4 linked regions of the Homo sapiens genome follow. The protein of the gene in region 3 purifies or fractionates together with the protein of the main gene of each other region. This does not show direct contact. Each region holds a gene or a part of one and is shown on either strand. Other genes may lie near its edges. The genes, in order: REN, CCDC9, TMEM184B and CLASRP.

Region 1 (7,022 bases), on a different chromosome or scaffold from region 3:
GGCCACAGTCAGACAGACAGACAGACAGACAGACAGAAGGCTGATGGGGCACCTCCAGGCTGCATGTCCTTCCTGAGTGTGGGTGGGTGGGTGGAGGCCACGCTGGTGGCCTGTTGAGGCAGTGAGTAGAGGAGGGAAGGTACTGTCACCCTCCACCACTTCTCCCCAGGCCCCTCCCTTCTCTGTTCCCCAGCCTGGACAGAGCAGGCAGAGAGCAAATGGTGGCTGTGCTTAAGAAGTGGCTGCATTTGGAAAGAGGGCAGGATGGTAATGCAGTCCTTCCCCACCCTCCCCAACCCCAGTGACGGCAGCATTTTTTGGAGCCCGGGGAGGGTTGAGGATTTCTGACCCCTTCATTTGAATCTGCCAGACACCAGTCTTGATGAGGTTGATATAGTGGAAATTCCCTTCGTAATGCTGGGGGTCGCTGCCTCCCAGCACAATCTGTCCTCCCAGCGATTGGGAATTCCTAAAGGAAAGATCAGAAGCTCTTGGAAACCCATAACCTCCAGGACCCAGCAACTCAGGCAATTGGGGAAGGTTGCACAAGGGTGCAGGGGAGGACAGAGGGCTCTAGAGCAGAGGAATGTGGGACAGACAGCCAGGCTCGGAGCTGTCGTTGGGAAGCATGCAGAACATACTGCTTCTCTGCCTTTCTTCCCCTCCCCAAGACCAACCAGAGGTTGTTCCAGGGTAGTCCAGCTGTTCCCCCAAAAAGCATCCCCAGAGAGGTCACAGAAAAGGAGCAGGTACAAGGACAGTGAGTGGATGTGAACAAGACACAAATGGACACCCCTCACTCTTGGGTTGCTGCTGATTGAGCAGGTGCATGGGAGGGGACCCTGGGGAGGCTATTGGGTATGGGGTGGGCAGGTGGCATGGAGAGAGCAGGAAGGAGAGACAGAGAACTTCGGCATCTAGCGGAGGCTGGGCTTGCTGATGTGAGTTTTGGGCCGGTGGCGTGTGTAATTCTAGGTCAGGTGCTCGGGGAGTACTGGAAGGTCACAGCCATGTGGGGGTTTTGTCTCCTTACTCGGAATCTCTGCAGAGAAAGAGAGACAGCAGAAAGGAAGCTTCATTTCATGCCAGCCTCATCAGCCCTGCTGTTTGGCAGGGTGGGTGTTATGTACTCTCTTTGCCCTTCAGGCAATGGAGTCACCAAGAGGCGAAGTCACTTGCCTGAAGTTACCCAGTCCATGAGTGAACAAGTGGGGGACTGGAGCCAGGCTCCTGGTGCCCCGTCTGGAGCTGATTCCCCTCACCTTCCTTTCCTCCTCACTGCACTTGGCTCAGGGACTACTGTAGGCCTAGTCTCCAGGGCATGCCTGTGTGTGTGATGTGTTTTTCCAGAATTCATACTAGAATTCACACATGCACATGTGTGCATGGGTGTGTAGGTGTGCATATGTTATTTTGTGCAACTGCAAACTACTTGTGTTTTTATAAATTCGGAATGTATGTGTATATGCTAGCACAAATTCCCTCCTGCCTGTCTCTCAACACTTCAGTATCTCTCTGGATGTTCCCTCCTTCCCATCCCAAGATAAAAGAAGAGGCCAGCCCTCTCCTCTGCAAAACCTGGCTTCTTCCTGTCTGCTGGAACCTCATCTCTTTCAAGGCCTCCAAACTCCAGTGCCCCCATTTAGCTCCTCTTCTTTCCACATTTTTAATCTCTTTCTTTCCATTGGCTTCTTCCTCCACCTACAGGCATCACTCGAGCATCCTCTAGCATTTAAAAACACCCACCCTTCCTCTTCTGCTTCTGGATCTCACCCCCCACGCCACCCCCCATTCCCTTCCCTGTTGAATGTCCCAGGGCAGCCTACATCTCATGACCTCCACTTCCTGACACCCACGTCGTCCACCTCTTAACTTCTTGCCATCTGGCCTTGCCCCCACTTCCTCTAAAACAGTTCTTCTAAAGACCACCCCTGAATGCAGAGCCGCCAATTGGCCTTTTCTCAAGGCCTCACTTTCTATCACCAAACCGGAGACTCCTCTCCATTTTACTGTGAGATTTCTCTGAACTCTGATCCTCTCCTCTATTCTTTTTGCCACTGGCCTCATGTTCTTACCCTTGTGACTTTTTTTTTTTTTTTTTTTTTTTTGAGACTGGATCTCACTCTGTTGCCTTAGCTGGAGTGCAGTGGCACAATCACTGCTCACTGAAGCCTTAACTCCTGGGCTCATGCGATCCTCTCGCCTTGGCCTCCCAAAGTGCTGGGATTACAGGCATGAGCCACTGCACCCAGCCCCTTTTGCCTCCAGCTCTCTTGTCTCCAACTCATGCCATCTTTCTAAGCCCAGCAGTTTGGAGTAGAGCCCAACCCTGCTCAAGAGCTTCCCCAAGGCTGGCTGAGCTGCATATAAGCTCAGCCTAGAATTGAAAAGCATCCATGGTTTTCAGCACCACACTTGCTGCCTGCCTGTGACACTCTTTATGTTGGAATATGTCTTGTCTTCCCTGTTAGCCTGTAAGCTCTATGTGGGTAGGGGAGTACAGATTCTGCCTTGTTCACTGTGTTCACTGCTGCACCCCCAGAGCCTACCACAGTGCTTGGCACATAGCATTTACTGAACTGATGAGTGAGCAAACAAACGAATGAAGGATCTAATGGATGACTGAAGTTGGCTGTCTCTGTGTGGGAGGAGCCATGGCCCTAACAGGCAGGGCTACAGGTCACAGTAATCCCTTATTTACCATCGCCCCCACCTTGCATCTCCTCTTGCTCCAGAGTGGCGCTGTCTATTAGAATGTCCTGTCATGCTGGGAATATTCTCTATCTGCACTGTCATAAGACTGTAGTTACTAGCCACCGTGGCTGCCAGGCATTTGACGTGTGGCTAGTACAACTAAGAGCCACCAGTTGAATGCTTAATTGATGCTTAACTGTATTTAATTAATTTAAATTTCAATAGTGCCTTCCATATTGGCTAGTACAGCTCTAGATATTGATTGGCTGTCACCTAATTACAAACACTTTACAATTCTGGCCCAGACTCTCCTTCCACTCCCCATCTCTTCTCCCCTCCTGTCCCCCCACCTCAGCCCTTGGAGTCCCAGTCCCCACCTGTTGTAGTAGAAAGAGAAGACGTCCTCTTTTAGCACCCCTTGGGAGATGATGTTGTCGAAGATAGGGGTGACCCTGCCAATGGCCTGTTCAATGAAGCCCATGCCCACAACCCCATCAAACTCGGCCAGCATGAAGGGTAAGGCGGGCATCTCCGTGACCTCTCCAAACATCTGTGTCACCGTGATTCCACCCACCTGTGGGAGGAAGGACCAGAGGAGACCAAGCCCACTGCCCACTCCTTGGTTGGAGTCTGGTCTGGGCTTCCACACTAGGGATCCCAGGGGCACACATGCTCCAGGGTACAGAAATCGGGGTAAGAGTATTTCCTCAACCCTGCACGCACACACTCTGTGCCAATACACATCTCTGCTGCGGAGCCCAGAGAGAGCTAGAGTTGACCAGGGATCGGAGAGCAGAGGCTGAGAGGGTGGTCCTGCCAAGCAGCAAAAGAAAAGCTGCCAAGAGCTCCTCCCCTCCCCAGTGGCCAGACTTTCGTGCCTGGCAGGACTGGGTCTTGGCCCCCACCCTTATCATGGGCGAAGGGTTTCTTTAGCACAGACAAGCTTGCCCTTCTCCCTCCTTTATATCTGAGTTCACAGAAAAAGGAAGGGAGGCAGGAATCACCCTGATTTCCTCTCAGGTGCCACGTGTGCCCCTCCCCTAACTCTGATGGAGCAGGGCCTGAGAAACTCCAGGATGAGGAAACGGTCAGACATGGGCCACATGGAAAAGAAAAGCAGGCCTTGACCTGAGTCCCAGAGTCAACCTCAACTGTGACCTTAAAACCTATGCCTGACCCTAAAACTCAGCCTGACTCTGACCCTGGATTTCAGTCTAGGGTGTAGCCCAGTCAGAGCTGGTGAACTTGGACGAGTTACTTGACTGCAGCCACGGGGCTCAGGACAAGCCCTACATGCAAGTTAGATGCAAAAACATCCACAAACCACCCAACGGTGAGCCCGTAGCCCAGGCTTGCTCCCCCATAGGTACTGCTGCTTTGCAGCAACAGCCAGATGTGGCAGAGTAGGGTGTTCCTCAGCTCCCCAGGCTCCAAGTGGGCTGCAGTGTACCTCCCCGCAGGTGTGGGCCCTGGAGGGTCAGGAGAGGCCTGGGGACAGAAGGGGTCCGGGGCAGATGACCTAGGGCGGCCCAACTTACGGTGATGATGTCCTGGCTGAGAAAGCCACTGACTGTCCCTGTTGAATAGCGGAGGGTGAGTTCTGTTCCATTGTGCTTGTAGCTGGAGGAATCCGAAGCATCGAAGAGCTTGTGATACACTGGCAGGGGGACAGAGGCTCAGGTTTGTCCAAGAGTGGCCCAGACAGGGGGACTCAGAGGCAGGGTGCATTGTGGGTATGGCTGGTTAGCTTAGGTGCAGGGATGAGTGGCCCTAGGGTCAGGGGGCTTGGAATATGTGCTTCATCAATCAAGGACTGGGTTTCTTGGGCTCTCCTAATGTGCCCATACATCGAGAATTTTGTCCTAAATGAAGGAATTTAAAGTAATCACTAACACTGATAACACCAGAGAAGATGCCAGGCACAGAGTAAGTGCCTAGTAAGAGGTTGTTGATTAAGACTAGGGATGGAAGAGTTCCGAGTGCCTGGGATGGGTTTGAGAATTCAGTCCTGTCTCAATCTCAGGAAGACTGGGAAGTGGCCTTCTGGGTGCTCAGGGGTTCTTGGACCTTTTTTTGTTTTTAACCTTGGTGGCTGTATCAGAAAAACGGGAGACATCTTCCCCTCTCCCCTACATGTCAGTGGGCACAGAGGCAGAGAGGAAGCCACTCCCTTGGTGGCAAGAGGGATGGGAGCTGGGTGTTGGGCAGGATTGCTCATGCACAGTAGGGCAGGGGGATGGAGGAGAGGCACTGTGGGTCTTAGGTCTCACCACAGGCAGTGTAGAGACGGCTGCACTTGGAGGAGGGCACCCAAACATTGGACGAACCAGTGTCAAAGACGACTTTGAAGGTCTGGGGTGGGGTGCCGATGCCAATCTCGCCATAGTACTGGGTCTGTGGGGGTAAAAAGAGAGGGCTGGAGGGGCTCAGGGGACCTTGGGTCTTGGGGTCTTGCCTGGCTTCACTCTTGGCTCTCGGTGTGAGACTTGGCCCAGGCGAGGTCCTATAGCCTCTCGGGGTTTCCATTTTCCTGCAGGAACTGGTAGGAGGCTTAGCATCTCCCCATGGCATCCCAGAAAGTGGGAGTCTCAGTAAGACAAGAGGGCAAAATCAAAACATTGAGAATGAAGCAGGAAGCAAACTTGACTCTTGAGGATCCTCTGGGGCAGGAAGCCATCAGGTTGTGCTGGGCCAGGTCACAGAAACCCCCACCTGAGTCACACACCCCTTCCCACCCACCTGTGACACCTGGCTTGAGGCCTGGGCTGAGTTCCAAACCTAACCCTGCCCCTGAATGGCCCCTGGATGCCTTCCTGTCTTCTGTGCTCAGGCTTTCCAGCTGGAAAATGGGAATTTTCTAGGGTGCTCACGTGCTACTCAGCGCCTTCGTCAAACACAGCTTGGAAAGGGTGAGTCTTGCAGCAAAGAAAGCCCTAGGTCCATGAGGGAAAGGAGACAGGGAGGGAGCGAGGGGCTGAGCCAAGCACTCACGTCCATGTAGTTGGTGAGGATCACGGAGGAGGTGGTGTTGCCAAGTGTCAGCCTCTTCATGGGTTGGCTCCACTCGGGACCAAGCCTGGCCATGTCCACACCTCGTTCCTTCAGGCTTTCTCGGATTGAGGGCATTCTCTTGAGGAAGATCCTGGCCCAGGGTGGAGGAAGCAAAAATAGAAAAGTGCTGTACCTCCACCACAGTGGTGGAGTCCCTGAGGCCAAACCCCTGCTTTTAGTACAACCACCTTTAACGTTAGCCCAGCCACCTGGAAATCACCTCTGTCGCTGAGGGCCTCTGGAGCATTTATAAGAGTTACTTCTTGTCAAGAGTCAATTTAGAGGAGTCAGCTGCCCGGGGATTAAATAACCCTGAAGTGACTTCCTTCTGTTGCCTAATTTTGATTAGACAAGGCTATTTGTTTATTGGTCCGTTCATTCATTTATTCCGTAATCACCTGCTGAACAACTACTTTGTGCCTCACTGTGCTGGACACTGGAGCTAGAAAGATAATGATCATGACTGCCTTTAAGGAACTCCACCTGGCGGGAGGACAGACAGGAAACAGGCACAGACATTCCCTCTGAAGAGATTAATGCCAGGGAGTGCCCCTGTCAAAACTAGGGGCTGGCGGGGAGACAGTGCCATGGGAGGCCGCTAGGTGGCAGCAGATGCCCACAGCAGCTGCAAGGTCTCCAGGATACCAGGGGACAGGCACCCAGCCAGGGCTGTGGTGGAGTGGACCCCCTGAGCTGGGTTGGGCCTAGAGAGATGCCAGCATCTTCAGAGCGCCATGCACCTCGTCCTTGGAGAGATGTGTCCCGGTCCCTTGGCTTCTTGTCTAGATGTTTTCCCATCACCTTTGAGAGGCAGAATTAAAGAGACCTAGGAAACTGACTCTACTGAGCCGCTACTGAAATCACACCAACAAGCTAGCTGTCATCCATTTTATAGATGAGAAAAATGAAGGCTCACAGGGACAAAGGTGACTCAGAAATGTTGAAGCAGGGATTCAGAGCATGTGTCTGGCCCTATTTCCCATATAGGGTCCCCTGGGTCCCGACATAAAGGCTGCCAAAGCCCAGAGGAAGATGTCTCTAGCTGTTCACGGGAAGGTCCCAGGATGGAAGCCCAAGTTGACTCTGCAATAGACTTTCCCATACACACAAAGATTCCCTCTTTCTTCTACTTTCTTCTCAGTGGCTAGTCCTCCTATACTCACACTACCCTTTCCTTCCTACATCCTTCTTGCGTCCCATGCATTCTACTTACCCCCATTTTGCCCATGAACATGAATGCAACTTTTATGCCTATCAGCATGGTATTGTAACAGAAA
Region 2 (6,921 bases), on a different chromosome or scaffold from region 3:
CCCCCTGCCCTGAACTGCCCATCAGTAACTGAGTCCCTCTCAACAGCCCTGCCCTGAGCCAGGTACCTCCTCTCCCACTAGGGTTCCAGCCCCAGCTTCCTCCTTGGTCTCTGGGCTCCAGTATCACCTCCTCGCACCCACCACCGCACAGCACCCAGAGGCGTCTTCCTAAAGAGCTGTTCTGACCGGTCCCACCCCTGCTCAAGGCTCTCCCTGGCTCCCCAGTGCCCTCAGGACAAAGTCCAAACTCATCCTGGTGGCATTCAGGGCCTAGCACAGCCTGGCCCCTGCTGACCTGCCCAGGTCAATTCTCTCCTAACCAACCCTCCAACTTGAAGCTCCAAGCTCTCTCTTGCTTCCAACATTTGCACAAACTGTTCTTTCTGCCTGAAACATGTTCCCCTCGCCTTTTCAACTGGCTATTGTCTACTCACCACTCAAGCCTCAGAGTCCACTCCTCCAGGAAGCCCTCCCTGATATCCCCAAGGCTGGGTCAAGAGCCTCCTCTGGACTCCCACAGACCCCTGAATTTCCTGATTCCAGACTTGTCTGCTCTGGGGCATCCCTGAGGACAGGGCTGTCTCCCTGACTAGACGGTGGACCCTGGAGGGGGCAGGCCTGGGTCTGTCTCAGTCACAGCTATATCCCCAGCACCACTCAGCACTGGGGCTGGTAAAGATCTTGGGGAATATTTGTGAACAAATGAATGAATGAATGAATAATGGAATGAAAGAAGGGATGTCAGGCTAAGGCCTTTGGCCTTTATCCTGACAGTGATGGGGAGCCATGAAAAGGTTTTAAGGAAGGGAGAGGTGAGAAAAACTCACTGCGGGGAAGAGAGGGGATGGGGTCTCCCAGGGCGGGGCTAGGGCACCTGGTAGCGCCGGATGAGGGCCTCATTCTTCCGCCGAAGAGCCTCGATCCTCTTGTCCAACTCAGCATCCTTCTCCTCCTTTGATTTCAAATCGAGTGTGGCTGCCTGAGACCGGGAGGCAGTTGAGGGATGGAAGGAAAAACCTCCATCCATACCAGGGACTTTCCCCCAGGGTCTGAGAGTCTGCCCCTATGGATCCCATCCTCCCAAGCCCCCTTCCCCAAAACTCAGATTCTAGAGACCCCATTTTTCAGCCTCACCATTTCGCTGGCTGCGTGGAGCCAAGGTCCCAGCAAACCTCCCCTGCAGAATCTAGACGCAGCACTGAGGGTTCCTGGGGACAGAGGGAAAAAAAGGACAAAGGCCAATGGCCCCCCAACCTACTTCACCCTCTAACATACTGCGGGATCCTCACAGCCATACACAAAAAACCCTGTACCCCAAGAGAATTGTAGCCCTCACTCTCCCTCCTTTCAACTGCCACCTCCATCTTCTCCATAGAAATTCAGACTCAGCCCTTTCATGATCTTTGTGGACTCACCCAGTTCCCATGTAAACGATCTAGTCAAACCCACCTTGGGGATGTTCTGGCCCCCACCCACTGCTTAAGTATCCAACACTGCTCTCCTCCAAAGGCTGATTCTAGGCCAGCCGCCACACCCTGTGGTATGAGTGTTAGCCCGGGTTCCCTATCTCAAGAGAGTTCCAACTACAACCCCTCCAACCAGCCTGCAAAAGAAAGTTCCAGACCCACCTCCCTGTGCTCATCCTGGTGCCTCTCATATCCAGGCGAATATTCTAGCTCCACCAGGTAAGGTTCAGAAACATTCCCAATCCCACGCTCAAAGAAAGTCCGAACCCCACTCTTATTGGCTGCCCAAGCTCTCAGAGAACATTCCAAGCCCGCGCCTTCCTCAGGGACGTCCTAGTCCCGTCTCCAGCGCCCTACGGAAGGTCGACAGCCTCCCGCCTCCCCCGAAAGGATTCTGTACACAGGCCCAGAACTCACTGGCGAGGCTTCCTGGAACTGGCGTTTTGCCCCACTGAATACTCCACCCGCCCCAACAAGGACAAAACTACCCAGGCCCGCCCCAGATTTTCTGTGCAAAGCTCCAGCCTCAATCCGGCTGGGAATGCCAGGGCCACGTCCCCGACATCCTGGAAACCGCTCTGGCCCCGCCCACGGCTCGGGAAAAAACTTTCTGGCCCCGCCTTTCCCGCCAGACTTCTGGCCCCGCCCCCACCCATGGGCCATTAATGTGGCCCCGCTCCCGACTTTCCCAGCCACGCTCTTTCCCCGCCTCCTGGCTCGCAGGCAACAGCCTACACCCGCCCCTACCATCTCTTATTATTATTCCAGCCCCGCCCCCGGCCTGCCCAGTCAACCCTCTGGCCCCGCCTCCGATTGGCCTGGCCAACCTCCTGGACACGCCCCCTGACTCCCTCCCACACCTCGTTGCGTCAGCATCTGGCCCCGCCCATGGCTTCCCCAGGGTTCTGGCTCAACTCCCCGCTTCCCCGCCTCCCGGCCAACGCTCTGGCCGCGCCCGTGGCTCAGACGAAACTTTCTGGCTCCACCCCCAGCATTCCCCGCCAGCACCCTGGCCCCGCCCCCTGGCTCCCCCACTACATTGTGGCCCCGCCCCCGCCATTGCGTCAGCCTCTGGGTCCGCCCCCAACGTCCCGGCCAAGAATCTGGACCCACTTCCAGTAAGGCAAAACTTTCTGGCCCCGCCCACAGAGCTTCCGCCCGGCGTCCGAGCCCCGCCACACAGCTGAACAAGCAACACTATGGCCCCGCCCACAGTCCAGCCACAACTTTTAGGTCCCGCCCACAGCCGCCGGCCCAGGCTCTGGCCACGCCCCGCCCCGACCCTGCCCACCCACCCAACGGCCCGCCCCGCCAGCGCCCCTCCAGCTTCCCATGTGGGCGTCCTGTCCCCGCCCCCCGCAGAGAACTCCGACCCCGCCCGGGCCTGTTCGCACTCCCCGCCACGTGGGGCTTCAGGCCCCGCCTTCTCTGGGCGCGCTCCCGGCCCCCTCCCCCAGGTCACCTGTCCCGGAGACCCCGCGGCGTCCGCGACTCCGGCTCCGTCGGCCTCTGCGACCGCAGCTCCCGGGCCAGGCGCGTCACTTCCTGCCTGCACCACGTGAGGAAGGGAAATAAAGAGGGTCACTTCCGGTCCTGTGGGACCGTTTCCGGGAGCCTTAAAGGGGCCGCGCCTCCGCGATGGATGCGGGAGCGGGGCCGACTGGCCCCCCGGGTGTTCCGCAAGCTCATCCAACTTCCTTCTGCCTGAATTACCAACTTCCAGGAAAAGGAGACACCGTCCTCACTCCCTGGCCTCTACCTCTTTCTTCAAGCTGTTTCCGCCTCCAGCCCCTCATTCCTGGTTTCTATCAGTAGATGCCAAGCACTGGGCACTGACGCCTGGAAGCCTGGCGTGGTTCGAGCCCCCTCGTGCCAATGAAACCTTAGAGTTCGCTTTAGAAGCTTCAGATGTTCTACCGGCCGTGGGCGGTGGCTCACACTTGTAATCCCAGCACCTTGGGAGGCCGAGGCGGGCGGATCACCTGAGGTCAGAAGTTCGAGATCAGTCTGGCCAACATTGTGAAATCCCGTCTCTACAAAAAAAATTAGCCGGTTGTGGTGGCGCGCGCCTGTAATCCCAGCAACTCGGGAGGCTGAAGCAGGAGAATCGCTTGAACCGGGGAGGCAGAGGTTGCAGTGAGCCGAGATCATGCCACCGCACTGCAGCCTAGACGACAGAGCAGACCCCTTCTCGAAAATAAAATAAAATGCTGGGCGCAGTGGCTCACGCTTGTAATCCCAGCACTTTGGGAGGCCGAGGAGGGCGGATCACTTGAGGCCAGGAATTCGAGACCATCCTTGCCAACATGGTGAAACCCCGTCTCTACTAAAAATACAAAAAAAATCAGCCCGGCGTGGTGGCGGGCGCCTGTAGTCCGAGCTACTCCGGAGACTGAGCCAGGAGAATGGCGTGAACCCCGGGGGCGGAGCTTGCAGTGAGCCGAGATCGCTCCACTGCACTCTAGCCTGGGCGACACAGGGAGACTCCGTCTCAAAAAATATACATATACAAAAATTAGCCAGGCATGGTGGCGGGCGCCTGTAATCCCAGCTACTTGGGAGGCTGAGGCAGGAGCATCGCTTGAACCCGGGAGGCAGAGGTTGCAGTAAGCCGAGATTGCACCACTGCACTGCAGCCTGGGCGACAGAACGAGAGACTCCGTCTCAAAATAAAATAGGCCGGGCGCCGTGGCTCACGCCTGTAATCCCAGCACTTTGGGAGTCCGAGGCGGGTGGATCACCCGAGGTCAGGAGTTTGAGACCAGCCTGACCAACGTGGTGAAACCCTGTCTCTACTAAAAAATACAAAAATTAGCCAGGCATGGTGGCGGGCACCTGTAACACCTGTAATCCCAGCTACAGGCTGAAGCAGGAGAATCGCTTAAACCCGGGAGGCAGAGGTTGCAGTGAGCTGAGATCGTGCCATTGCACTCCAGCCTGGGCGACAGAGCAAGACTACGTCTCAAAAAAATAAATAACTGGCCAGGCGCAGTGGCTCATGCCTGTAATCCCAGCACTTTGGGAGGCCGAGGCAGGTGGATCACAAGGTCAGGAGTTCGAGACCAGCCTGGCTAACATGGTGAAACCCCGTCTTTACTAAAAATACAAAATTTAGCCAAGCATGGTGGCAGATGCCTGTAATCCCAGCTACTTGGGAGGCTGAGATAGAGAATTGCTTGAACCCGGGAGGCAGAGGTTGCAGTGAGGCAAGATCGTGCCACTGCACTCCAGCCTGGGCGACAAAGTGAGACTCCGTATCGAAAATAAATAAGTAAATGAAATCATAAAATATAAAATAAGGCCGGGCGCGGTGGCTCACGCCTGTAATCCCAGCACTTTGGGAGGCCGAGGCGGGCGGATCACGAGGTCAGGAGATCGAGACCATCCCGGCTAAAACGGTGAAACCCCGTCTCTACTAAAAATACAAAAAATTAGCCGGGCGTAGTGGCGGGCGCCTGTAGTCCCAGCTACTTGGGAGGCTGAGGCAGGAGAATGGCGTGAACCCGGGAGGCGGAGCTTGCAGTGAGCCGAGATCACGCCACTGCACTCCAGCCTGGGCGACAGAGCGAGACTCCGTCTCAAAAAAAAAAAAAAAAAAAAAGTATATATATATATATATATATATATATATATATATATATATATATATAAAATAAACGTTCAACCGATAGAATCAGTCGTTCATTCTCCCAAATCAGCATTGACTGCCAGGCTGCGTGCTGGGAGGAAAAGTTGGTGGGGGAACTGAGATGATGAACAAAGCTGACCCCATCCTTGTCCTCCTAAGGGAAGACACAAGTAAATGGGAAATAGCAGCACCTGTGGGAGATGCCTGGCAAGAGGGGCAGGAGAGGCCGGAGGGTGAGAGGCTGCCTGTGCAGGCCAAGGACACAACCTATGCAAAGGCCCTGTGGTGAATGAGCTTGGTGCATTCCCAAAACTAGAAGATACTCAAAGCAACAGCAGCTGAATAGCTGCAGAGTCCAGGAGGTTACAGCATTAACCAAAACTTAGACATAATAAAGCTAGTGTGACAAGCCGACCAGGCGCTGTGGCTCACGCCTGTAACCCCTGCTACTGGGGAGGCTGAGGCAGGAGAATCACTTGAACCTGGGAAATGGAGGTTGCAGTGAGCCAAGATTGAGCCACTGCACTCCAGCCTGGGCAACAAGAGTGAAACTCTGTCTCAGAATAAATAAATAAATAATAAAGGTATTGTGACAAATGATGATGAATGCTACAGAATACCCTCAGTTAAGGTGAATGACAGTTATAAGTGGACAGACCAGATTGCCTGTAGTGCCAGTCATTTTATTTTGTGATTTAAGACATAGAAAGTGGAAGTACCTGGTAATTCCTTACCATTTCTAAGGCTACTGTTCACAGCCTTTCAGAGATACCAATGAAACTTAATCCTCTTATAATTGTCCAAATAGCAATCTATGCATGTAACGAAATTCACTTGAGGCCAGTGCGGTGACTCATGCCTGTAATCCCAGAACTTTGGGAGGCCAAGGTGGGCAGATCACTTCAGCTCGGGAATTTGAAACCAGTCTGGGCAATAGAGTGAGACCTAGTCTCCACAAAAAAAATTAAAAATTAGGCCAAATACAGTGGCTCATGCCTGTAATTCCAACACTTTGGGAGGCAGAGGTGGGAGGATCATTTAAGGCCAGGAGCTCACTCAAGGTCAGCCTGGCCAACATAGTGGGACCCCCACCTCTCTCTCTCTCCATATATGTGTGTGTATGTGTTTGTATAAATATATATATATATTTTGTTTGTTTGTTTGTTTTTCTAAGACAGGTTTTGCTCTTTTTGCCCAGGCTGGAGTGCGATGGCGCAATCTCGCCTCACTGCAACCTCCGCCTCCCAGGTTGAAGCAATTCGCTGCCTCAGCCTCCTGAGTAGCTGGGATTACAGGCATCTGCCACCATGTCTGGCTACTTTTTTTTGTATTTTTAGTAGAGACAGGGTTTCACCGTTTTGACCAGGCTGGTCTTGAACTCCTGACCTCGTGATCCACCTGCCTCGGCCTTCCAAAGTGCTGGGATTACAGGCGTGAGCTACCGCGCCCTGCCGACTGTTTTCAACACATGAACTTCGACGGACACATTCAAACTATGGCAACTGTTCTGACAGAAAGAGGCTGCCCAGAGCACCCTGGGGAGAGCTGACTTGATGGAGCCTGAGTGGTGTGTGTGTCACCGCTGCTGCCCTCTCCAGCCACATCACTCCCTTTTGTGCATCCTCAAACTCCGTGTTCTTATCCAGTGGTTCTCAATGGAGGTAATTTTGCCCCCTAAAGGACATTTCTCAATGACTAGGGACATTTCTGGTTGTCACAAGAGAGGGTCCTCTTGACATCTAGTGGACAGAGGCCAGGGCTGCTCCTGAACACCTTCCAATGCCCAGGCCAGTCCCCAAGATAAAGACTCAGCCTCGGCTGGGCGTG
Region 3 (7,428 bases):
CTTCCAGAAACTTTCAAGGCCTCCCTGTTGACATCAGGATCAAGTTCAAACTCCTTGGCGGGGCCTCCAAAGGTCTTCAGGACACAGACCCAACACAGTCACAGGCAGTTCAAGCCTCTGCGTCTGAGAGGTGAGGCAGCTCAGACCTCCACATCTGCCCGGAGTTCCCTCTACCTGGAACGCCCTCCTTCTCCTTCATAGGTGGAGCACCCCTCGTCCTTCAGGGCCAAGACGACTTCCAGCACCCCAGGGTTATGGGGGAGGAGCATGGGCTCTGAGGTCAGACCTACTGGTTCAAAACTCAGCTGTTCCACTCTCTGCTGCCTCCCCTACAAAATGCAGACAGTGACAGCCCCCACCACACTGGGTGGTAGGAAAATTAAATACAGTAATTCATGAAAGCGCTTTGAACTGTGCCTGGCACACAGTAAGTGCTCAATAAACGGACTGTTGTTCCTATTGTCCTCTGGGCCCCTTTAGGGCCCTCTGTTTCCACCACAAGTAGGGCACTGTCTTGCACATATTTGTTACACATTGGGCTCCCTCTGCCAACCACCTTTTAGAGGGCTGCCCCAGCACAGTGCAGGGCAGCATGGTCTTCGGTGAGTGCTTACTACCCGGGGCTGCAGGGCCTGGTGCAGACCCCACACAGAGCTCTCCCAGGGGCCCAGCTATTGGCCTTCCAGAACTCCCACACCAGATCCCCAGTCTAAAGGCCCAGAGCTGTGACTCGTTTTCAAAACAATAAAAAGCTGTACCCTGCCTTGCCGGGGCTGTTTCCACTCCAGGGAATTTACAGAGAGAAAATGAGCACAGCAGGGACTGGAAATAGCTCTGAGCCCTTCTCAGGGTGAGGGACTGGGCAGGCCAGCCAGAGACCAGGAGCAAAACCTCTAAGACAGAGAGGGAGCAAACAGCCTCCGGACAGAAGCCCCTGCTCACAGAACTCGGCCAATAGGAAAGAACTAGGACAAGTGGCTCATTCACCCTTCTGCCTCGAAGCTCTTCTTTCTACTTGGTTGGAGAAATTCAGAAGGGGCTCTTTGAATAACCCACCACCACCGTGGGTGCAACAAATAAGACATCCAGAATCCCAACGACTGCACAAATGCTTTGGGGGAATTCACAGCGCCTTCTCCACCCACATTAGCTATTGGAGCCTCGTATCCAGATTGGGGTCACTAAATCAGTGTCCATCTTCCCAGCACTGGGAGCCCCTAGAAGGCAGGCACCAGGTCCCATTGATCATCAGACCGCTATGCCCCAGCATAGTGCCTGGCACATAGTAGATGCTCAGTAAGTTGCAAGACAAGATCTGGCAGCAAGAGAGAGGTCCTGGTTAAAGGATGATTCCATCCAGGCTTGCCACGTATCGTGGAGAAGAACGTCATGAATTCCCTCTGGGCCTCAGTTTACCGCATCTGCAAATAGGGACAACTGTTCCTTACTCACACAGCTGCTGTGCAAATTACACAGGAAAATATATGTGGAAAGCAGAAAAGCCTCAGATGAACGTCAGTCATCCTTCAGGCTTCAGCTCAACCGTCTCCTTATGAGGGAGTCTTTCCTGCGGCCACGATCCCCCTCCCCGGGAACTGAACCTGCCTCTGTACTCCTTCTACTCCTTTGTTTGGTATTTTTCACATCATCGTGATCACCTGTTTCCAAATCTGATTCCCCCATGCTTGAGAGCTCCTTGATGGCTTGGGCATCAAATGTTTCTGTCCAGGTGGGCACACATACCTGGCTGCTGGGGCTCTCCCACCCCAGCGTCCCAGGTCCCAACTCTGATACGCACAGCACCCTAGGCAAGGTTCAGAGGTGCAGAGCCTAGGGGTTCTACCAAGGAAGCTAAATAGGTAGATGGAAAGGGACACTGTAGGCATAACCTGTCAACGAAGTCACACCTCTGAGACCTGCGCTGCCTCTGCAGGTGCAGGTGAGCTTGTTTGCCTGGCTGACTCTGCAGCGCAGGGCCTCCAGGGCACAGATTGCTGCTTCTTTCCTTACAAAAGCACCAGCAGTCAGATAAATAATACATGGCCTTCACCTCACCACAGGTATCAGGCATGCAAATACCTGCTTTGCCCCAAAATGCCCTGGAAAGGAGGGAGGAGTAAAACGTCTGGCCTTATACAACACCTCCAGAGGGGATATGTATTGGGAATCCATGCCCAACCCCCAGCATAACTGCCTTGCCTTGGCCTGGAGCCACCCAGCACTGGAGGTAAGTGGATCCAAGCGAGGTACCAAGGGTGTGCCCAGGAGGAAATGTACAATTCACGGGAAGGATACAGACACCCAAAACCAGTCTCCACGGTCCCTTTGGGGGCAAACATCTTTCGAGCCCCAGGTCCCAGTCGATCCCCTTCCAAACCTGCGGACCTGTGTGGCGGGCGTGTACACCCTCCACTCACGACGCAGCCCCGAAAGCCCCCCGCCGACCACCCTCCCAGGTCACTGCCACCCGCACAGGGCACGGACGCCTCCCCCACTCACTCGGCCGTGCCAGTCGCCAGCACACCCACCCGGGAGCACACAATCCCTCTTGCAAAGCGCCTTGGTCCATCCGCCTCCCTCTCCCGGGGCCGCCCCCCGGACAGGTCCGATTACACTCCAGGAGCTGCCCCCGCCACGTTGGCGTGGAAAGGGAGCGGGCACACCCACGGGCGACCTCGCGGGGCGGAGAGGAGGCACGGGTGGGGAGACGGATGCCCCCTCCCTCCGCGGCCGCACCGGCCTCCGTAGTGCCCTCCCCGCCCGGGAGCCGGCGGCCGAAGCCGGGCGTCCCTCGCGCGGGCCTCTCCGAAACAAGCAGCCCCCCGCGCTCGGGAGTCGCAGCTCCCCCTTGGGGCTCCCGGGCGAGGCCGGCCAGGCGGGATACCTCAGGAGCCCATGGCGGTGGCGGCGTCTGCGGACGATGCGCGGCAGCCGGACTCTGCGGGCGGGGCGGGCGGCGCCGCAGCCCCGGAGTCTCCGCCGCCGCCGGCGCGTCCCGGGCCCAGTGGAGTGCAGCCGCGGCGCGCATGCGCTCTGGGCTCGCCGCCGGGGAGGGCGGGGCGGCGGACGCGGCTGAGATCACTGCCTGGGCCTTAAAGGGGCCGCGCCCCGAACCCCAGCCCGCCGCCCCGAACCCCAGCCCGCCGCCCCGCGGGTTGGGGCGCGACCCGGGTTCTCTTGCCACTCACAAAACCAGCTACGACCGGCCCCCAACCGCGAGAGCTTTCTGGGCTGCGATCTCTGCCCCTGACCCTCGCTGGTGCTTCACTTCTTTTAACCCTAATTTCCTCCATTTGAGCCTGTTTTGAAGATGAAACGAAATACAATGGCTATTTGTTGAGTGAAGGATGCGTGTGGAATTGTGGAATGAACGTGGACCGAGTGTTGTGTGCAATTAGGCCAGATGAAATGGCAAAGCACTGAAAGAGGCCTTTTTTTCCCACTCCGCTTAGCAGCGATTCTTTCTTGCCCCGTCTGGCTCTAGGCTGCCGAACTAGCAAAAGTCTTCAGATAGGGTTCAAGCCGCCTAGTCCATTTCTGTTTGCCGGTCCAGACATCACCTAGGTTAACTGAACAAGATAAAATGCAATTAAGTTCTGGCATTGATGTGCTCAAGATCCCCAAATGTATTTATGTCTCCAGACTCCTCGCCTGAACTGTCTACCCAACACCTCTTCCTTGGAGCTCCAGCAGGCATCTCAAAGTCAGCGTGTCTGAGCTGAGCCAACCCCACTTCCACACACAAAAACCTGCTCCCTCTCAGCTTTGCCTCCATCAGCTGTTGACAATTCCATCCTTCCAGTCCCCAGGCCAGAACTCGGAGTCAGCTGTGAATGAATGCCCCCCTTCTGCCCGCTACCCAATAAGGCAGGCAGGAGATCCTGTTGGCTCTACCTGCAAAATAGATCTAGACTCAGATGTCTGCCACTCCTCCTCCAGTGCTACCACCCTGGTCCAGTATTTGCACAGGATTATTGCAGAGTTCTGCTAACCCCTCTCCCTTGTTCCAGCCTTGCCCTCTGATCCATTCTATCAATTCAGGGGTGAGGGAGATCCTTTTTTTTTTTTCTCTTTTTTCTTTTTGAGACAAAGTCTCGCTCTTTGTCTCAAAGTTGCCCAGGCTGGAGTGCAGTGGCGCGATCTCGGCTCACTGCAAGCTCCGCCTCCCGGGTTCACGCCATTCTCCTGCCTCAGCCTCCCGAGTAGCTGGGACTACAGGCGCCCGCCACCATGCCCAGCTAATTTTTTGTATTTTTAGTAGAGACGGGGTTTCACCGCGTTAGCCAGGATGGTCTTGATCTCCTGACCTTGTGATCCGCCTGCCTCGGCCTCCCAAAGTGCTGGGATTACAGGCGTGAGCCACCACGCCCAGCCAAGATTCTTTTAAAATCTGCCGGGCACGGTGGCTCACGCCTGTAATCCCAGCACTTTGTGAGGTCGGGTGGCTCATTTAAGGCCAGGAGTTACAGACCAGCCTGGCCAATATGGTGAAACCTTGTCTCTGCTAAAAATACAAAAATTAGCTGGGTGTGGTGGTACATGCCTGTAGTCCCAGCTACTCTGGAGGCATGAGAATTGCTTGAACCCGGGAGGCGGAGGTTGGGTTGTGGTGAGCCAAGATCGTGCCAATGCACACCAACCTGGGTGACAAAATGAGAATCTGTCTCAAAAAATAAAATAAAATCGAAGTCAAAACATGGTACTTTTTTGCTCAAAACCCTCCATTGGCTCACTGTTTCGCTCTAAGTAAAAGCCTTACAAGTCCTTACAAACACTTGATCTGACATTCTACTCTCCTGGGGATTCCTGATCTCATTCATCTCTTACCCTTTCCCTCCACACTGATCCCTTGCTGTTCCTAGAACAAGCTGAGCACACTCAGCCCCGAGCCCCCTGCACTAGCTGTTCCCTCTGCTGCGATCGCTGTTTCCCCAGATACCTGAATGGCTCCTCCATCACCTTCTTCAAGGGTTTGCTCGAATGTCCTCCACTTAGTGAGGCCTGCTGTGAGCACCCCTAGTAAAACTACCAGACCCCTCACATGCACTCTGTATTTCCCTTTACCGTGCCCTACTTTCCCTGTCACTTCATTTCTTTCTTTCTTTCTTTTTTTTTTTGAAGCGGAGTCTCGCTCTGTCACCCAGGCTGGAGTGCAATGGTGCTATCTCGGCTCACTGCAAGCTCCGCCTCCCGGGTTCATGCCATTCTCCTGCCTCAGCCTCAGAGTAGCTGGGACTACAGGCGCCCACCACCATGCCTGGCTAATTTTTTGTATTTTTAGTAGAGACGGGGTTTCACCGCGTTAGCCAGGATGGTCTCGATCTCCTGACTTCGTGATCCGCCTGCCTCAGCCTCCCAAAGTGCTGGGATTACAGGCGTGAGCCACCCTGTCACTTCATTTCTATCATATTATATAGTTTGCCTGTTTCCCTGTGTGTCTTCTTCTAGTAGAACACAAAATTTTTCGGTTTTGTTTTTTTGTTTTTGAGACAGTCTCTGTCACCCAGGCTGGAGTGCAGTGGCACAATCTCAGGTCACTGCAACATCCGCCACTCAGGCTCAAGTGATCCTCCCACCTCAGCCTCCTGGTTAGCTGGGATTATAGGCATGTGCCACCATACCAGGCTAATTTTTGTATTTTTTTTTTTTTTTTTTTTTTTTTGTAGAGATGGGGTTTCGCTATGTTGCCAGGGCTGGCCTCAAACTCCTGGGCTCAAAGCAATTGCCCGTCTAGACCACTCAAAGTGCTGAGATTACGGGTGTGAGCCACTGTGTGCCTGGCCAATAAATTCTGAAGAGAAAGATTTTCATCCTTTTTGGCTTTTTTGTTGTTGTTGTTGTTTGAGATGGAGTCTCACTCTGTCACCCAAGCTGGAATGCAGTGGTGCAATTTTGGCTCACTGCAGCCTCAACCTCCCAGGTTCAAGCGATACTCTTGCCTGTGCCTCCCAAGTATCCTTTTTGTTTTCTGATGTAATCCCAGTACTTAGTACAGGGTCTGGCATAGAGAACATGCCCCCGCAAAAGTAGGTATAACATGACCAGAGATCTGGTAATAGCAAAATCCTATAGAACGATTCCTCCCCAGCCCCAGGTAGGACATGCCTGGGTCTGTCCTAACAAGAGTAAGGCTTATCAATTGCATTGTAACTTGTTTATGACTTCCCAGCTCTCCCTCCCTACACACTAACCCCTTCAGGAGGAAGTCTTTGTCCCAATTACCCACCATATCTGCAATGTGTAGTACAAGACACTTACAGACCAGACACAACCTGACTTACACTTCCCCTCCAGGGCTTTCAGTTCAGGGTCTTGGTTTCTGCTTAGGGGCACTCTTGGGTCTCAACTTACAGAGGCCCCGGGCTGGCAGGGGACAGAGGCAGGTGGTGGGTATTTTTAGGCTTGGTTGCCCGGAAGGGGCTCAAAGACAGAAAGTCACCTGGTCTGAGTGATATGGCAGGTCAGCAGGTGGTATTGGGGGCCCTAGTTGGTGCTCCCTGTGGGAGGAAAAAAGCCCTCTCAAGACCTTTACTCAGGTTTTCCAAAATGAAGATAAACACCTACCTTGCTATCTTCCCTCTCACCCCTCCTCCATGCAACTACCCATCCTTTCTTTCTTGGGTTTTGCTCTCTCACCCAGGCTGGGGTGCAATGGTTTGATCATAGTTCATTGCAGCCTCAAACTCCTGGGCTCAAGCAATCCTCCACCTCTGCCTCCCAAGTAGCTAGGACTACATGGGCATACCATCACGCTCAGCTAATTTTCTATTTATTTATTTATTTATTGACAGAGTCTTGCTCTGTTGCCCAGGCTGGAGTGCAGTGGCGCGATCTCGACTCCCTGCAACCTCCCAGGTTCAAGCGATTCTCCTGCCTCAGCCGCCCGAGTAGATGGGATTATAGGCACGCGCCACTACGACCAGCTAATTTTTTTTTGTATTTTTTTAATGGAGACAGAGTTTCACCATGTTGCCCAGGGTGTTCTCAAACTCCTGAGCTCCGGCAATCCGCCCACCTTGGCCTCCCAAAGTGCTAGGATTACAGGCGTGAGCCACTGCACCTGGCCTAATTTTCAATGTTTAATGGTTTTATAGAGACTGGGTCTTGAACTCCTGGCCTCAAGCAATCTTCCTGCCTCTGCCTTCCAAAGTGTTGGGATTACAGATGTGATCAGCATGCCTGGCCTATTCTTTCTAACAAGGCTCAAAGATTCCACCTAAATGTGTCCGCTTTCCCCTCCACTGCCCTGGTTCAGTCTGACTTAACTTCTGGACAATTATAATGGTTTCCCAGGCCCCCAGCCTCACCTTTCCCCCTGCCCACAGGCTAATGAAGAAAGAATGCTTTTCTCAATGACCAGCTCCACCCCTTTGAACTCAACTCAGCAAACAGCTACTCCTATTCTCCCTTCAAGGACCAAATCAGATA
Region 4 (6,973 bases), on a different chromosome or scaffold from region 3:
TAAGTGTGTTAAATTCCACAAAGGGGAAGGAAAGGGAGCTATGATTATGGCATTTTTAGAGGACACCTGACTGAGCTTGGGAAACAAGACTTCTCTGAGGACTGAGATCTGACAGATAAGCAGTAGTTAACCAGGTATGGGAAGAGCTCATACAAAGGTCCTGTGGCTGGGGAGCGCTTGGGTCAGTGGAGGAATAGCAAGGAGGCCAAAATGACTTGTGCAAAGGAACAAGGCAGAGTGTGGGGTGGTGTGAGTCTGGAGGAAGGGCAAAGGCCAGGCCATGCAGGACCCTAAAGGCCACAGTGAGGAGCCTGGGCTTTCTCTCAAGGGCACTTAGGAGGCATAGAGGTGCTCTGAGCAACGAAGGGACAGGGTCAGTTTTGTGCTTTAGAAAGGCCTCTTGGACTCTTCTAGGAAGGACAGACTGGAGGAGCCAGGACTGGAGGCCAGCAGACCAGGGAGGAGGCTGGGGCAGTAATACAGGAATAACTGGGAAAGGTCTATATAAATGTCATCTGACAGGAACACTGAACCTAGAAAACAGGTGCCATTTCAAGCTGGGATCCCAAGGATACACAGGAGTTAAATAGGTGAGGGGGGGTAATATAGGCCAAAGCCCTGTGGTGGCAGAAATAGAAGGCCAGTGGAGCTGTCCGAGTATGAAGCTGAGTGGTCAGACCACAAGGGTCTTTTAGGCCAGGGATAGTTTGGTCTTCCCCGCAAAAACAACTGAAGCATCAGACAGGAGAGGGAAGTGGTCAGGTTTCACTTAATATTCACTCCTTTTTTTTTGAGACAGTCTTTTTTTTTTTTTTTTTGAGACAGAGTCTCGCTGTCGCCCAGGCTGGAGTGCAATGGTGCTATCTCAGCTCACTGCAGGCTCCGCTCTGCCCCCCTCCCCGGTTCACACCATTCTCCTGCCTCAGCCTCCCGAGTAGCTGGGACTACAGGCACCCGCCACCTCACCTGGCTAATTTTTTGTATTTTAATAGAGATGGGGTTTCACCGTGTTAGCCAGGACGGTCTCGATCTCTTGACCTTGTGATCTGTCCACCTCGGCCTCCCAAAGTGCTGGGATTACAGGCGTTGAGTCTTGCTCTGTCACCCAGGCTGGAGTTCAGTGGCACAATCTCCATGCACTACAGCCTCCTCCTCCCGGGCTCAAGCAATTCTCGTGCGTCAGCCTCCCAAGTAGCTGGGACTACATGCACACACCACTAAGCCTGGCTAATTTTTGTATCTTTAGTAGAGATGGGGTTTCACCCTTTTGGCCAGGCTGGTCTCGAACTCGTGACCTCAGGTGATCCACTTGGGATTACAGGCGTGAGCCACTGTGCCAGGCCAACTTAATACTCACTCCTATTGTGTGCCAAGCCAAATCTCAAGAGTGGCTGAGCTCTTCTGGGAATGGGGAACACAGCAATAAGCGAAACAGACATTCTGGAGGTGGCCAGTCTAACGTCAGGACTGCTCTGAGGGTTACAGAGACTTCCCTTTTTCTTGCTAACACCGGATCGGCACTGGGAGGCCACACCAAACGACACAGTATGCTACAACAAACAGAAGCCCTTGGGATCCCACCAATGATTATCCTCAAGAAAAGATTAATGAATATACTCCTGAGGAAATGAGCCTCTTGTCTTGACATACTTCCAAGCCCAGATTTTACCAGGATGACCAGCTGTGCCCCCCAACCCAGGGTCCCTCACCCCAGACAAAAGGCCAGTTACTCACGATCTTTTCATAATACTCCCGTCTCCGCTCCGCCCTCTTCTTGTAGTCGACCATCATGCCTCGAAGCTTCCGCTCATGCTTCCGAGCCTCGTGCCACATTGTGGTGAGGCCAAGCCTGGGGCCTCAACCTGAGGGATGAAGGGACCAGGAAAGTCAGATGGTCTGTGAAACCCGTATGGGCAGAATCAAAGTCATCTAACAAGTTGGTGGCAGAGTCGATCCCAAACAACACATCTCTTAGCTTCAGGGAGCAGAAGTGAAGCTGCAGAACAGTATGCCAGATGTTCAAGTCCATCCCTAACAACTTCGATCTAGAAGCTTGGGCATTCTGAAAAACCCTCAGGTGATTCTGAGGTGAGCATCACTGGGAAAGGGGTGTCCTAGATTCCACGCGCTGGAGTCGGGAATGAAAGGTTTTGAAACATCAGCAGTGTTTGAAGTAGGGTCAGAAGGCAAACCCTGAGCACTTAAGGCTGGAGCTCAAGAGAAAGAGAAGAACTGAAAAGGCTCCCACTAGGGGCCATGCGTGGGGTTGGGTATGAGTCTGGGTGGTAGAGGGATAAGGAGAATAAGGATGAAGGCAGGTGGAGGAAATCGGAGAAAGCTTTTAAGGGAACAGTGCAGTTGTATGAAGGTGGAGGTCGAGGACAGGTGAAGGGCGTGGCGGAAGATGAAGATGCTAGAGGGAGTGGGAACACGGGGAGGGAGTGTTGCAAGGAGACCAGAGTGAAGCTGAGGTCTAAAGATGGGATCTAGATGGCGGGGTGGGGAGAGCATCCAAAGAAAAAGAGCGTAGAGCCTGAGAGAGGCGGAGCTGGCTGACAGGAGGGCGTGGGCTGAGCTTGGGGGCAGGGCTTGCGGGAAAGGGCGGAGACCGAAGGTTTGGACGGGGCTTGTGGATCGCGTCGCGGCCTGAGGATTTGGGCTGGGTTTTTTTTTTGTTGTTTTTTTTTTTGACAAGGGGGCGGGGCCTGTGATAAGCTGCTGGGCCGAAGGCCGAGTTCGACGCGGCAACTTCTGGCCCACAGCCGGGGCACGGGCTCGGCCTGAGGCCCGTCAGGCCTAATGGGGTGAGGGACGAGCGATCCTCGGGGCCGGGACGCAGCAGAAGCCCACAGCAGCATGGGGAGAGCCTGAGGAAAGGGAGAAGCTGGGCTGAGGCCTGCCCGAAAACCGGGAGGTCGAGCCGCAGCCTGCACTCACCGGCTGGTCGCCGCCTCCCACCGCTGCGCTCGCGCGCGGCCCGCACCGGAAGCGGAAATGAAAGGCCGCGCTAGGGGGAGGGGGCGGAGCATGGTGGAGGGCCGCGCAGCGCACTTCCGCCGACGAGAGAGGCGGGTCCTAGAGTCGAGAGGGGCGGGATCCCGAGGAAGAAGTGGGAGAGCGGAGAAGGGAAGAGCTTGGATGCTTTATCTTTTTATCTTTTTTATTTTATTTATTTATTTAATTTTATTTTTTTGAGACGGAGTCTCTCTTTGTCTCCCAGGCTAGAAGGCAGTGGCGCGATCTAGGCTCACTGCAACCTTTGCCTCCTGGGTTTCAGCTATTCTCCCACCTCAGCCTCCCGAGTAGCTGGGACTACAAGCGCGCGCCACCAAGCCCGGCTAATTTTTGTATTTTTAGTAGAGATGGGGTTTCACCATTTTGGTTAGGCTGGTCTCAAACTCCTGACCTCAGGTGATCCACCTGCCTCGGCCTCCCAAAGTGCTGGGATTACAGCCATGAGCCACCATGCCCGGTCTCATTTTTTATTTTCATTTTCATTTTTTATTTTTTTGAGACACAGCCTCGCGCTGTCGCCCAAGCTGGAGTGCAGTGGTGCGGTCTTGGCTCACTGCAACGTCCACCTCCTGGGCTCAAGCGATCCTCCCACCTCAGCCTCTAGAGTAGCTGGGATTACAGGCGCGCAGCACCACGCCCGGCTAATTTTTGTATTTTTTGTAGAGACTAGGTTTCGTCATGTTGCCCAGGCTGGTCTCAAACTCGTGAGCTCAAGCGATCCTCCTGCTTTGGCCTCCCAAAGTGCTGGGATGACAGGCCTGAGCCCCCAGCCTGGAGGCTTTCTTTGCTACTAAGGGACTAGGGCGTTTCCCAAGCCCAGAACAGACGAAACCCCGGAGGCTCAAAAACTCATCTTTATTGGGAAGACTCTGAACAACCAACCTACCCCCCACCTTCAAGTCTGGGGAGGGAGGGCCAGGAATCTGCCCCCTCCTCCCATATGTACAATCTTTTCCGAATCCTACTGGAGAAGGTGCCCCCACATGTGGGGACAGAGGCAGCTGTAACAAGCTAGTGCACGGGAGCCATGTCCCTTTTCCTCTCCGGACTCAGTTTCCTCATCTGTAAAATGGGCTCAAGGGGAAACCCGTGCAACGGAGCTTCTCGCCAAGGCTGAATATGTCCACTTCAGAAGCATGAGGAAGGGCCAAGGGGATGGGGGTGCTAGACATCCTGGTTGGGATTGCACGGCTCCTCCACCTCCCTCCCCACCCAGTGCCCCTCCTCTGGCATCGCGGGGCTACGTGGCTTCAGGCCCCGGGGATAGGAGGCCGCCCCCAAAGGCCGCCTCGCGGTAATGATTGGGGAACATGTTGCTGCCCACAAGGCTGGCGGTGCCTCCATCCCCGGGGCCCGGGGCCTGGTACGAGTCCAGTGTCAGTGGTTCAGGGCCGGGGGTCTCCCCAACCACGGCCCCGGCACCTCCGCTGCACACAACAGCGCTAGCGTGTGGCGGTGCCGGGGGCAGCAGGTCCAGCATGGTGAAGAGTGTGGGGGCCGTAGGGTCGTAGGCAAAGCCATCGTCCAGGAGGTCAGGCCCGCCAGGGGGCTCCAGGCCGGGCAGGGACACGGTGCCAGAGAAGAAGTCAGGGTCTGGCAGCAGGGCTGACGGCGGGAGGAACGGGCCTACGGGGATGAAGACAAGAGAAGTGTAGTGTGATTTAGGGCTAACTTCTGATCAGGCCCTAAATCAAATGCCCTACTCCCTGCAAAATGTGATATCAAGGTGGCCTTTTTTTTTTTTTTTCTGAGATGGAGTCTCATTCTGTCACCCTGGCTGGAGTGCAATGACGTGCTCTTGGCTCACTGCAACCTCTGCCTCCCCAGTTCAAGTTGATTCCCCTGCCTCAGTCTCCTGAGTAGCTGGAACTACAGGCCAGGCATGTGCCATGCCCAGCTAATTCTTATCTTTTTAGTAGAGACGGGGTTTCACCATGTTTGCCAGGCTGGTCTCGAACTCCTGACCTCAGGTGATCCACCTGCTTCGGCCTCCCAAAGTGCTGGGATTACAGGTGTGAGCCACCAAGCCTGGCCTTAGGTGCCCTCTTAATCCCAAGGAGAATCCGTGTGGGACTATCACCATTCTCAGATAATAAGTAAATTGAAGGCCAAGCGTGGTGGTTCACACCTGTAATCCCAGCACAACGTGACGAGACCCTGTCTCTACAAAAAAATTATTTAAAAGTTAGCTGGGTGTGGTGGTGCCCGCCTGTAGTCCCAGCTACCTGGCAGTCTGAGGCAGGAGGATTGCTTGAGCCCAGTTTGAGGCTGCAGCGAAGTATGATCACACCACTGCACTCCAGCCTGGGCAACAGAGCAAGACCTTATCTCTAAAAATAATTAATAATAAGTAAACTAAGGCACTGAGGGAAAGTAAATGGAAGGCTCACACAGCTGTTGTGGAACTGGGGTTGAAACCATGCTCCTACACAGCTGTGGAGAGTTTTCCCTGAGAGTGAGAAAGGAGAAGAGGTTCCAAAGCCCCCCAACATACAGAGACAACCCAAAAAGTGAAATCTCCAGACCATGGGAGACACAAGTTGGGAAGTCACCAGTCCCAAAATTGTCAGAAAAAATAAATGTCATTCTCAGGCATAATGGGGACTTAAGAAAAAATAACAATCAAATCAAAAAGTTTCATTATAAGAGGGATTCTCAGGCCAGGCATGGTGGCTCACGCCTGTAATCCCAGCACTTTGGCAGGCCGAGGCGGGCAGATTACCTGAGGTCAGAAGTTCAAGACCAGCCCGGCCAACATGGCGAAACCCCTTCTCTCCCAAAAATACAAAAATTAGCAGGGCATGGTGGTGGGCACCTGTAATCCCAGCTACTCAGGAGGCTGAGGCAGGAGAATCACTTGAACCTGGGAGGTGGACATTGCAGTGAGCTGAGATTGTGCCACTGCACTCCAGCCTAGGCAACAGGGCAAGACTATCTCAAAAAAAAAGAGGGACTCTCTTTTTGGAACAAGACAAACCTTAGAGACACAAGGGACTATTTTCTAGCCTTCCTTGCAGCCTGATGTGATCATGTGACTAAGGTCTGCTAACTGGAACGTGGGCGTAATGGCTGGAGCTACAACAGCCACCTTGCACCATGAGTTGGCGAACTGAAAATGGCAGAAGCCTCGGTCTCTCGATGATCATGCAGTCACCAGACCATCCCTGGAACACCTACCTATGGACTGTTTTTTGTTTCTTGTTTTTGAGACGGAGTCTTGCTCTGTTGACAGGCTGGAACACAGTGGCACCATCTTGGCTCACTGCAGCCTCCACCTTTTGGGTTCAAATGATTCTCCTGCCTCAGCCTCCCAAGTAGCTGGGACTACAGGCATGTGCCACCACATCCAGCTAATTTTTGTGTTTTTAGTAGAGATGGAGTTTCACCATGTTGGCCAGGATGGTCTCTCTCTCTTCACCTCGTGATCTACCTGCCTTGGCCTCCCAAAGTGCTGGGATTACAGGCGTAAGCCACAGTGCCAGGCCTGTTTTGTTGTTGTTGTTGTTGTTGTTTTGAGAAGGGTCTCATTCTGTTGCTCAGGCTAAAGTGCAGTGGTGCAATCTTGGCTCACTGCAACCTTCACCTCCTGGGTTCAAGTGATTTGTCTGCCTCAGCCTCCAAGTAGCTGGGACTACAGGTGTGCACCACCACACTCGGCTAATTTTTGTATTTTTAGTAGAAACAGGGTTTTACCACGTTGGCCAGGCTGGTCTCAAACTCCTGGACTGAAGCAGTCCACCTGCCTCAGCCTCCCAAAGTGCTGAGATTACAGGCATGAGCCACTTTCAGTCCCTACAGACTATGTATGTGAGACAAGAAATAACGTTCTATCCTGTTGAAGCCCCTGTTATTTTGGGTTTTGCTGTAAATGCAGTTAAATGTGATCATAGGTGGGATGCAGTGGCTCATGCCTGTAATCCCAGCACTTTGGGAGGCTGAGGCAAGCAGATCACCTGAG

What was found.
Region 1: the proteins of TMEM184B (region 3) and REN purify together in Homo sapiens (affinity purification with mass spectrometry; 2 studies listed by BioGRID and IntAct, with this or other methods). This does not show direct contact.
Region 2: the proteins of TMEM184B (region 3) and CCDC9 purify together in Homo sapiens (affinity purification with mass spectrometry; 2 studies listed by BioGRID and IntAct, with this or other methods). This does not show direct contact.
Region 4: the proteins of TMEM184B (region 3) and CLASRP purify together in Homo sapiens (affinity purification with mass spectrometry; 2 studies listed by BioGRID and IntAct, with this or other methods). This does not show direct contact.

The regions. Positions count from the first base shown.
Region 1 is NC_000001.11:204,156,328-204,163,349, forward strand, and holds part of REN (renin preproprotein), read right to left. Parts: intron 5,837-7,022; coding exon 5,686-5,836; intron 5,089-5,685; coding exon 4,965-5,088; intron 4,352-4,964; coding exon 4,233-4,351; intron 3,269-4,232; coding exon 3,072-3,268; intron 1,043-3,071; coding exon 1,034-1,042; intron 470-1,033; coding exon 350-469; intron 1-349. UniProt on the Homo sapiens protein: Renin is a highly specific endopeptidase, whose only known function is to generate angiotensin I from angiotensinogen in the plasma, initiating a cascade of reactions that produce an elevation of blood pressure and increased sodium retention by the kidney.
Region 2 is NC_000019.10:47,252,617-47,259,537, reverse strand, and holds the start of CCDC9 (coiled-coil domain-containing protein 9), read right to left. Parts: upstream 3,014-6,921; 5' UTR 2,929-3,013; intron 2,042-2,928; exon of another isoform or gene 1,629-2,041; intron 1,209-1,628; 5' UTR 1,138-1,208; coding exon 1,135-1,137; intron 980-1,134; coding exon 875-979; exon of another isoform or gene 828-874; intron 1-827. UniProt on the Homo sapiens protein: Probable component of the exon junction complex (EJC), a multiprotein complex that associates immediately upstream of the exon-exon junction on mRNAs and serves as a positional landmark for the intron exon structure of genes and directs post-transcriptional processes in the cytoplasm such as mRNA export, nonsense-mediated mRNA decay (NMD) or translation.
Region 3 is NC_000022.11:38,270,000-38,277,427, forward strand, and holds the start of TMEM184B (transmembrane protein 184B), read right to left. Parts: upstream 3,012-7,428; 5' UTR 2,885-3,011; exon of another isoform or gene 2,570-2,884; coding exon of another isoform or gene 2,529-2,569; exon of another isoform or gene 2,500-2,528; intron 1-2,499. UniProt on the Homo sapiens protein: May activate the MAP kinase signaling pathway.
Region 4 is NC_000019.10:45,035,073-45,042,045, reverse strand, and holds the start of CLASRP (CLK4-associating serine/arginine rich protein), read right to left. Parts: upstream 3,002-6,973; 5' UTR 2,938-3,001; intron 1,863-2,937; 5' UTR 1,834-1,862; coding exon 1,735-1,833; intron 1-1,734. Other genes in the region: transcription factor RelB, read right to left, coding at 4,256-4,641. UniProt on the Homo sapiens protein: Probably functions as an alternative splicing regulator. May regulate the mRNA splicing of genes such as CLK1. May act by regulating members of the CLK kinase family.